2 linked regions of the Homo sapiens genome follow. The protein of the gene in region 1 interacts with the protein of each later gene in a biochemical or structural test. Each region holds a gene or a part of one and is shown on either strand. Other genes may lie near its edges. The genes, in order: CHMP7 and USP8.

Region 1 (3,814 bases):
CTGGCGAATTTTTTATATTTCTAGTAGAGATGGGGTTTCACTGTGTTAGCCAGGATGGTCTGAATCTCCTGACCTCGTGATCCGCCCGCCTCTGCCTCCCAAAGTGCTGGGATTACAGGCGTGAGCCACCGTGCCCGGCCTTTTTTTTTTTTTTTTTCCTCAATTGAGACAGGGTCTTGCACTGTCCCCTAGGCTGGAGAGCAGTGACATGATCTTAGCTCACTGCAGTCTAACTCCTGAGCTCAAGCAATCTTCCCGCCTTAGCCTCCTGAGTAGCTGGGACCACAAGTGTGCACCACCATGCCTGGCTAATTTTTAATTTTTTGTTGAGATGGGGTCTCACCATGTTGCCCAGGCTGGTCTCACACTCCTCGGCGCAAACAAGACCCCCACCTCAGCCTCCCAAAGTGCTGGGATTACTGGGGTGAGCCACTGTGCCCAGCTGAAAACGTGAGTCTTAATGCTTCCCCCACAGACCATGACTGTGAATGTTATGTTTATGCTCTTCCTTGCCAGTGTCCATTCAACTAATATTTATTGAGCCAGGCATTGTCTTAGGGACTGGGGATACAGCCGTGGACAAGACAGGTCCCTGCCTTTGCAGAGGTCTTTCTGAGGGGCTCTTCCCCTGCCCTTCCCCCTGAATGACTGTACAAGGAATCCCTAATAAAGACACACCCTCTGGCAGGAGAACACAGACATTGAAGTCTGTCTTCCAGGTGGGAAAGTCTAGCCTTGTTGGGAGGCAGAGGATATGTCCGAGGTCATTGTTGGTGTTAACAGTTCCTTCCCTGTCTCCCCAAAACAGGAAGATGTGTATAATGTGCCCTGTTTGCATGTTCTGTCCCTGTGGGTTGAAAAAGCTTATCCTTAGTCAGCCTGCTTGAGCCTGCCACAACAGACTGTCAACAGACTTGCCACAAGAGTTTTTGCCGTCAGCATCAGTTTTCTTGCCACTGGGTATTGGGTTTAGTCTTCAGATTTAAAACCACCTTAACTGAGTGCTGCTCTCAGGGACCCTTTGGGACCCTGCCACTCCCATCCTGTGGCACAGTAATCTTATCTGTCCCTTTGTTTCCAGGTGTAAAGAAGAAGCCCGCCGGGCATGCCGAGCAGGAAAGAAGCAGCTGGTGAGTTCTTGTCTCCTCCAGACCCATAGCAGTGCCCCAGGCAGGCCTGGAGCAATGCCCAGCAGTTCAGAGAGCAGCTTGCTGGGGTTTTGAGGGGGGTAGAGTCTGCAGGGGGCCCAGGCACCACAGCTTATTTTACAGATGGGAGGGAAGAAAGCTGGGACATCCTTAGCGTCTGGGAAGGGCTGTCTTCCTCTTGCCCTTTGGCTCGCCCAGTTCAGCACTGACCTAAGTCTCCATGCCTCCAGGCACTGAGGTCTCTCAAGGCCAAGCAACGGACAGAGAAGCGCATCGAGGCCTTGCATGCCAAGCTGGACACTGTTCAAGGCATCCTGGACCGGATCTATGCCTCCCAGACAGATCAGATGGTAGTCACTCCCCTCTACTCCAGCACTTGGCTGGTCTCTCCGTGTGTGTTGGTCACTTGCAGCTTCGGCTTGGCTGTTTGGAGGATCCCTGGGTTCTTTCGGGATGTGGCTGGGGTTGCCTTTGCCTTTCCAGTCAGGAGGTTTGGCCTCGGTGGGTATAGGGTAAATTGAGCTTGGGTGCCAAAAAAAACACCCCAAAGCTGCCTTTTGGAGTTGAAACAATATTGTATGTATTTTGCCAAATGTCTGTCATTTGCACTGATAGCTTTGCTTTGTCTTTAGGTTTTTAACGCCTACCAGGCTGGGGTAGGAGCACTCAAACTCTCCATGAAGGATGTCACAGTGGAGAAGGCAGAGAGCCTCGTGGATCAGATCCAAGAGGTACAGAAAGGGGCCAGGGAGGGACACACAGAGAAGGAGGTGACAGAGGACAGATTTGACTTCATTGCACATCCTCTTTAACGAAACCTGACTTGTGACCTTGTGAACTTGAGGAAGCTTTCCTTGATTCTCACTTGGGGCAGGATTGCTTTGTAACCCTAGATATTTTCCACCAAAGACTGAGATGCTCAGAGCCACCATGCCCAGCTCAAGGCTTTGCACTTGTCTCTTACAGCTCTGTGACACCCAGGATGAAGTTTCTCAGACTCTGGCTGGTGGGGTAACAAATGGCTTAGGTGAGTGGACAAGGTGGTTATTTTTATTTTTATTCATTTTTTTTTTTTTTTTTTTTTTTTGAGACGGAGTCTCGCTCTGTCGCCCAGGCTGGAGTGCAGTGGCGGGATCTCGGCTCACTGCAAGCTCCGCCTCCCGGGTTCACGCCATTCTCCTGCCTCAGCCTCCCAAGTAGCTGGGACTACAGGCGCCTGCCACTATGCCCGGCTAATTTTTTGTATTTTTAGTAGAGACGGGGTCATTTTTTTTTTTTTTAGATGGAGTCTCACTCTGTCACCTAGGCTGGAGTGCAGTGACGCATTCTCGGCTCGCTGCAACCTCCGCCTCCTGGGTTCAAGTGATTCTCCTGCCTCAGCCTCCTGAGTAGCTGGGATTATAGGCGCCCGCCACCACGCCTGGCTAATTTTTGTATTTTTAGTAGAGATGGGGTTTCACCTGTTGGTCAGGCTGGTCTGGAACTCCTGACCTCGTGATCCGCCGGCCTCGGCCTCCCAAAGTGCTGGGGTTACAGGTGTGAGCCACCACACCTGGCCCAAGGTGAGTGTTTCTTCCTTTCATCCTGGAAGACTTCGCTTCCCTGTGCTGTGATGAGTTTGACAGTAGATTTGCTTTTCCGGGTGCAGGCAGGCCTCTCCTAGCCTGCCCTCCCTGGGGCTCATCTGCGGGAGCAGTCAGGGAATTGCCATTTCCTCCTCGACAGCTGTGCTCATGACCCATCTGTGCTGCGGCATTCCTCATTCACAAGGCTTCTGACTGGAGGATCCTCCTTCAAGGGCAGTGGGAATCAGGGTCAGGTCCATGGTGTTAACAGAATACACCTCCTTGGTGACTTAGCTTGGAGTGTGGAAGAATCATCTCTGCTTGAAGCTACCCTCCTGACTTCCGGGATTTTTTTTTAATCTGCAAGGAGGCCTGGCATCTTTTGTAAAGCTAAGCGGGTTTTGGTAACCTCAGTCCTGTACTCATTAATGCATTTCTCCCTTGAGTTTATGCATCTTTATGTTGTCTTTTCTTTCCAGATTTTGACAGTGAAGAACTGGAGAAGGAATTGGACATCCTCCTTCAGGATACCACCAAAGAACCTTTGGATCTGCCTGACAACCCCCGCAATAGGCATTTTACCAACAGCGTGCCTAACCCTAGGATCTCAGATGCTGAACTTGAAGCTGAACTTGAGAAACTGTCCTTATCAGAGGGAGGTATGGAGCTGTTTTCCAAGGCCTTTGGAGGGCATATGGCCTTCTGGCTGACAGAGTTGATGGGCCCAAGCCCAATTACTCCATTTGCCAGAGTACCAGAGCCCTGTAGGGAGTTGAGGGTTGTTTATATTAAGACTCAGTCTCTTAATCACTGGAATGCCTTCATCTTCAAGATTTTCCTGTTATAGTGTTCAGTCATTTCTTTGCCTTGCAGGTTTGGTCCCAAGCAGTAAATCTCCAAAAAGGCAATTGGAACCGACTCTAAAGCCATTGTAGGACCCTCAAGTGAAGGACCCTCATGTAAAAGAGAGACCAGGCTTGCTGGGTGTGTACATAGTTATTTAAACAAGAAACTCTCAGAATGTGTTTGGAAGAGGAGAAAGGAGAACCACTGATTTTATCTGGATGCTACTACTTACTACAGGACAGATAGAATTTCTGG
Region 2 (3,814 bases), on another chromosome or scaffold:
ATACTTAATTATCTTCCAAAACAATAGGGATTATCAAAGTCAACATTGATGCCTTATTAGTTGATAAACAGATTTAATATCTGTCTGCTCTCACATATAACTGATTTCTAGTTAATATTTACATCTTAAGATGTTCCTTTGGCATACACTCAACATTTTCCACATCGAATTACCTACTTTGCTGTAAACCAGTGGTTCTTGTTGGGGGTAATTTTGCCTTCCAGGACACATTCGGCAATGACTGTAGACAGTTTTGGTTGTTACAACTGGAAGGGAAGGATGATAGTAAACTGGCGTCTAGTAGAGGTTAGGGATGCTGCTAAACATCCTGCAGTGCACATTGCACAGAGCAGCCTCTCACAACAAATGTTTATCTGGTCCAAAATGTGAGTGATGGCAAGGTTGAGAAACGCTGCTGTAAACTGATCAGTTTTAAACTGCAGTATTACTTTTTTTGTTAATAGCACTACTGCTCTTCATATTTTGCAGGGTACAGTGTGTGTGCCTCTGTGTGTGTGTGTGTGTGTGTGTGTAAGCAAGAGAAAATACTGTTTCGATCAACCAGTTACCAAAGCATGTTTCTACCATTTTGTGTTCTTTTCTGCAGTGACCTTGTAGTTACTCTTTTCCATAGTATCATTCCCTTGTTCTCATCTCCTTTCAATCTTACTTACATATCCCTAATTTGACCATCTTGAGATAATATTTTTCCCATCAGGAACTGGCTTTTATTGCCTGCTGAATCAAATATAAAGAATTCTGGATGGCTTCCAAAGTCTTCCATAATGTGACTCCATCTCCTACATAATATAATTTAGTTATTCTTGTTAGTCAACATTTTTTTTTCCTTTTAGTTAAATTCAGCTGACAGGGAGAAACATTTATTAAAGTGGTGACTATGTGAGGACTATTGAGATAGGTGCCAGGGATCCAAAGACATGTCAACATTTTCCCTCTATCCGATTGATTATTTCCCAATAACTTCTGTAATATTCCTTATTATTACTATTTTTTCCGAGATGGAGTTTCACTCTTGTTGCCCAGGCTGGAGTGCAGTGGTGCGATCTTGGCTCACTGCAACCTCTGCCCCCTGGGTTCAAGAGATTCTCCTGCCTCAGCCTCCTGAGTAGGTGGAATTACAGGCGTCCACCACCATGCCCAGCTAATTTGGTATTTTTAGTAGAGACGGGGTTTCTCCATATTGGTCAGGCTGGTCTTGAACTTCTGACCTCAGGTGATCTGCCTGCCTCAGCCTCCCAAAGTGCTGGGATTACAGGTGTCAGCCACCATGCCCAGCCAGATGTCCTCCTTTCTTACCCTGTTCTTAGCTAAATTCTGTCCTCAAGGCCAGGTTCTCTCTCTCATCACATCATCATGAGCACTGCGTGTGTATGAGGATTTTAAAGCCTTATAGTAATTGTCTGTTGATCCCATTACTGTATTTAAGGAATGATATAGATCACAAGCATTGTAGGATTCACATGAAGAAACAAATTCCAAGAACTGGGACCATAAAGGATGGAAGAGATGGAACTTAAGTTTGTTTCTTCTTGTAGCTGAGACCTCAGATGTGCACCACTACGCCCAGCTAATTTTTAAATTTTTTGTAAAATTTTTTGTCTTTACTTTGTTGCCCACTTTGTTGGCTACCTACCATTTCTCCCTATCTCTGCCCTTTAGGCAACAACAATACTCAACATAAATATCTGTTCTTGAACTCCTGGGCTCAAGCAGTCCTCCCACCTCAGTCTCCCAGAGTGTTGGGATTACAGCTGTGAGGCACCACGCCCAGTCAGTGCACTGCTTTTTGCATGGAGAAAGTCTTGCTGCTACTTTAAAAAGGTCAGTGTGCTTAATTGATCTACATTCTGTCACAAACTTCTTATTTTATCACAAACTGATAACAAACAGTTCCCCAATCAGCACTGGTCATTGGACCATACTTGGAGTTACATTGCTGTAGTGTGAGACTTTCATACTTTTTTTAAAATTGTCACCTGTATTAAGAAATACATTTTACATTTTCATCCAGTGTTATATCATATACACATGTACATAACTGAAACAATTTTACGAAGCAGTACCTAACCTTACTATGTGTGACATAGTCTGATGTTTGCTATTTTTTTAATGCTGATCATGACCTTCTAATGGATTTTAAAAACACTGCCCTCAAGCATTTAGCACAGTGCTAGAGACATAGTAGTTGCTCAGAAAATACCATACATTTTAGCAGTGATTAAATCTTGAGAGGGTTGAGCCTTCTTAATACTTGAGGATTACTTTAAAATGTTATTTCATTGGCCGGGCACGATGGCTCACGCCTGTAATCCCACCACTTTGGGAGGCCGAGGCGGGCGGATCACCTGAGGTCAGGAGTTCGAGACCAGCCTGGCCAACATGGAGAAACCCTGTCTCTACTAAAATACAAAAATTAGTGGGGCATGGTGGCGGGGCGCCTGTAATCTCAGTTACTTGGGAGGCTGAGGCTGCTTGAATCTGGGAAGTGGAGGTTGCAGTGAGCCAAGTTCATGCCACTGCACTCCAGCTTGGGCGACAGAGTGAGACTCCGTCTCCAAAAAAAAAAAAAGTTATTTAATCAATACTTAGTTGTTTGTGGCACCTTATACAGAACGAGTGTAGAGTGGATTATGAGATTTAAGACAGCGAGAAGATACTTATGTTGAGTATTGTTGCTGCCTAAGGGCAGAAATAGAGAGAGATGGTGGGTGACCAACAAAGACAACTTTTGCTTTCCTTTCAATATTGCCAAAGACCTTAGGAGTGGCTGGTGTGAATCCCTGCTTAAAATCAGGACCAGTTTGAATGACTGCAAACCTCATTTTTCACTTTTTACCTTTTAGTCTTCACTTTGTGGTTCCAGTCATCAAATCCCTACTCTTTGTCTTAGAAAGGAGCAGAAGGATGTCAGAGAAAGAACATTTTCTCTTTATTTATTTATTTTTTTTTGAGATGGAGTCTCTGTTGCCCAGGCTGCAGTGCAGTGGCGCGATCTCAGCTCACTGCAAGCTCCACCTCCCAGGTTCGTGCCATTCTCCTGCCTCAGCCTCCTGAGTAGCTGGGACTACAGGTGCCCGCCACCGTGCCCGGCTAATTTTTTGTCTTTTTAGTAGAGACGGGGTTTCACCGTGTTAGCCAGGATGGTCTTGATCTCCTGACCTCGTGATCCGCCCGCCTTGGCCTCCCAAAGTGTTGGGATTACAGGCGTGAGCCACTGTGCACGGCTGCATTTTCTCTTTGTTAACTCATTTTCAACACTTTTGGGTTTCACTTTTGGAGCACTGCTGTTTGACTAAGGCTGAAGTTCTTTGTCAGGTTTACACATCTTAAGAATTTTTATTTTTTGTTGTTAGAAGCATGTTAATTTTTCTTGCATATACTTAGTTATTTTTTTTTCACTTGCAATCCTTCTTGAAGCATAAGGTTTTTTGTTTTGTTTTGTTTTGTTTTGTTTTGTTTTAAAAGACAGAGTCTTGCTCTGTCGCCCAGACTCCGCTCACTGCAATCTTCACCTCCTGGGTTCAAGCGATTTTTCTGCCTCAGCCTCCTGAATAGCTGGGATTACAGGTGTGCGCCACCACGTCCGGCTAATTTTTGTATTTTTAGTAGAGATGAGGTTTCACCATGTTGGCCAGGCTGGTCTCAAACTCCCGACCTCAAGCAGTCCACCTGCCTCAGCCTCCCGAAGTGCTAGGATTACAGGCCTGAGCCACCACGCCCGGCTGCATTTTCTCTTTGTTAACTCATTTTCAACACTTTTGGATTTCACTTTTGGAGCACTGCTGTTTGACTA

Evidence for each region.
Region 2: the proteins of CHMP7 (region 1) and USP8 form a complex in vitro, tested with the Homo sapiens proteins (one study listed by BioGRID).

Annotation. Positions count from the first base shown.
Region 1 is NC_000008.11:23,256,952-23,260,765, forward strand, and holds part of CHMP7 (charged multivesicular body protein 7), read left to right. Parts: intron 1-1,081; coding exon 1,082-1,130; intron 1,131-1,378; coding exon 1,379-1,498; intron 1,499-1,780; coding exon 1,781-1,879; intron 1,880-2,114; coding exon 2,115-2,175; intron 2,176-3,192; coding exon 3,193-3,372; intron 3,373-3,586; coding exon 3,587-3,648; 3' UTR 3,649-3,814. UniProt on the Homo sapiens protein: ESCRT-III-like protein required to recruit the ESCRT-III complex to the nuclear envelope (NE) during late anaphase. Together with SPAST, the ESCRT-III complex promotes NE sealing and mitotic spindle disassembly during late anaphase.
Region 2 is NC_000015.10:50,430,658-50,434,471, forward strand, and holds part of USP8 (ubiquitin carboxyl-terminal hydrolase 8), read left to right. Parts: intron 1-3,814. UniProt on the Homo sapiens protein: Hydrolase that can remove conjugated ubiquitin from proteins and therefore plays an important regulatory role at the level of protein turnover by preventing degradation. Converts both 'Lys-48' an 'Lys-63'-linked ubiquitin chains.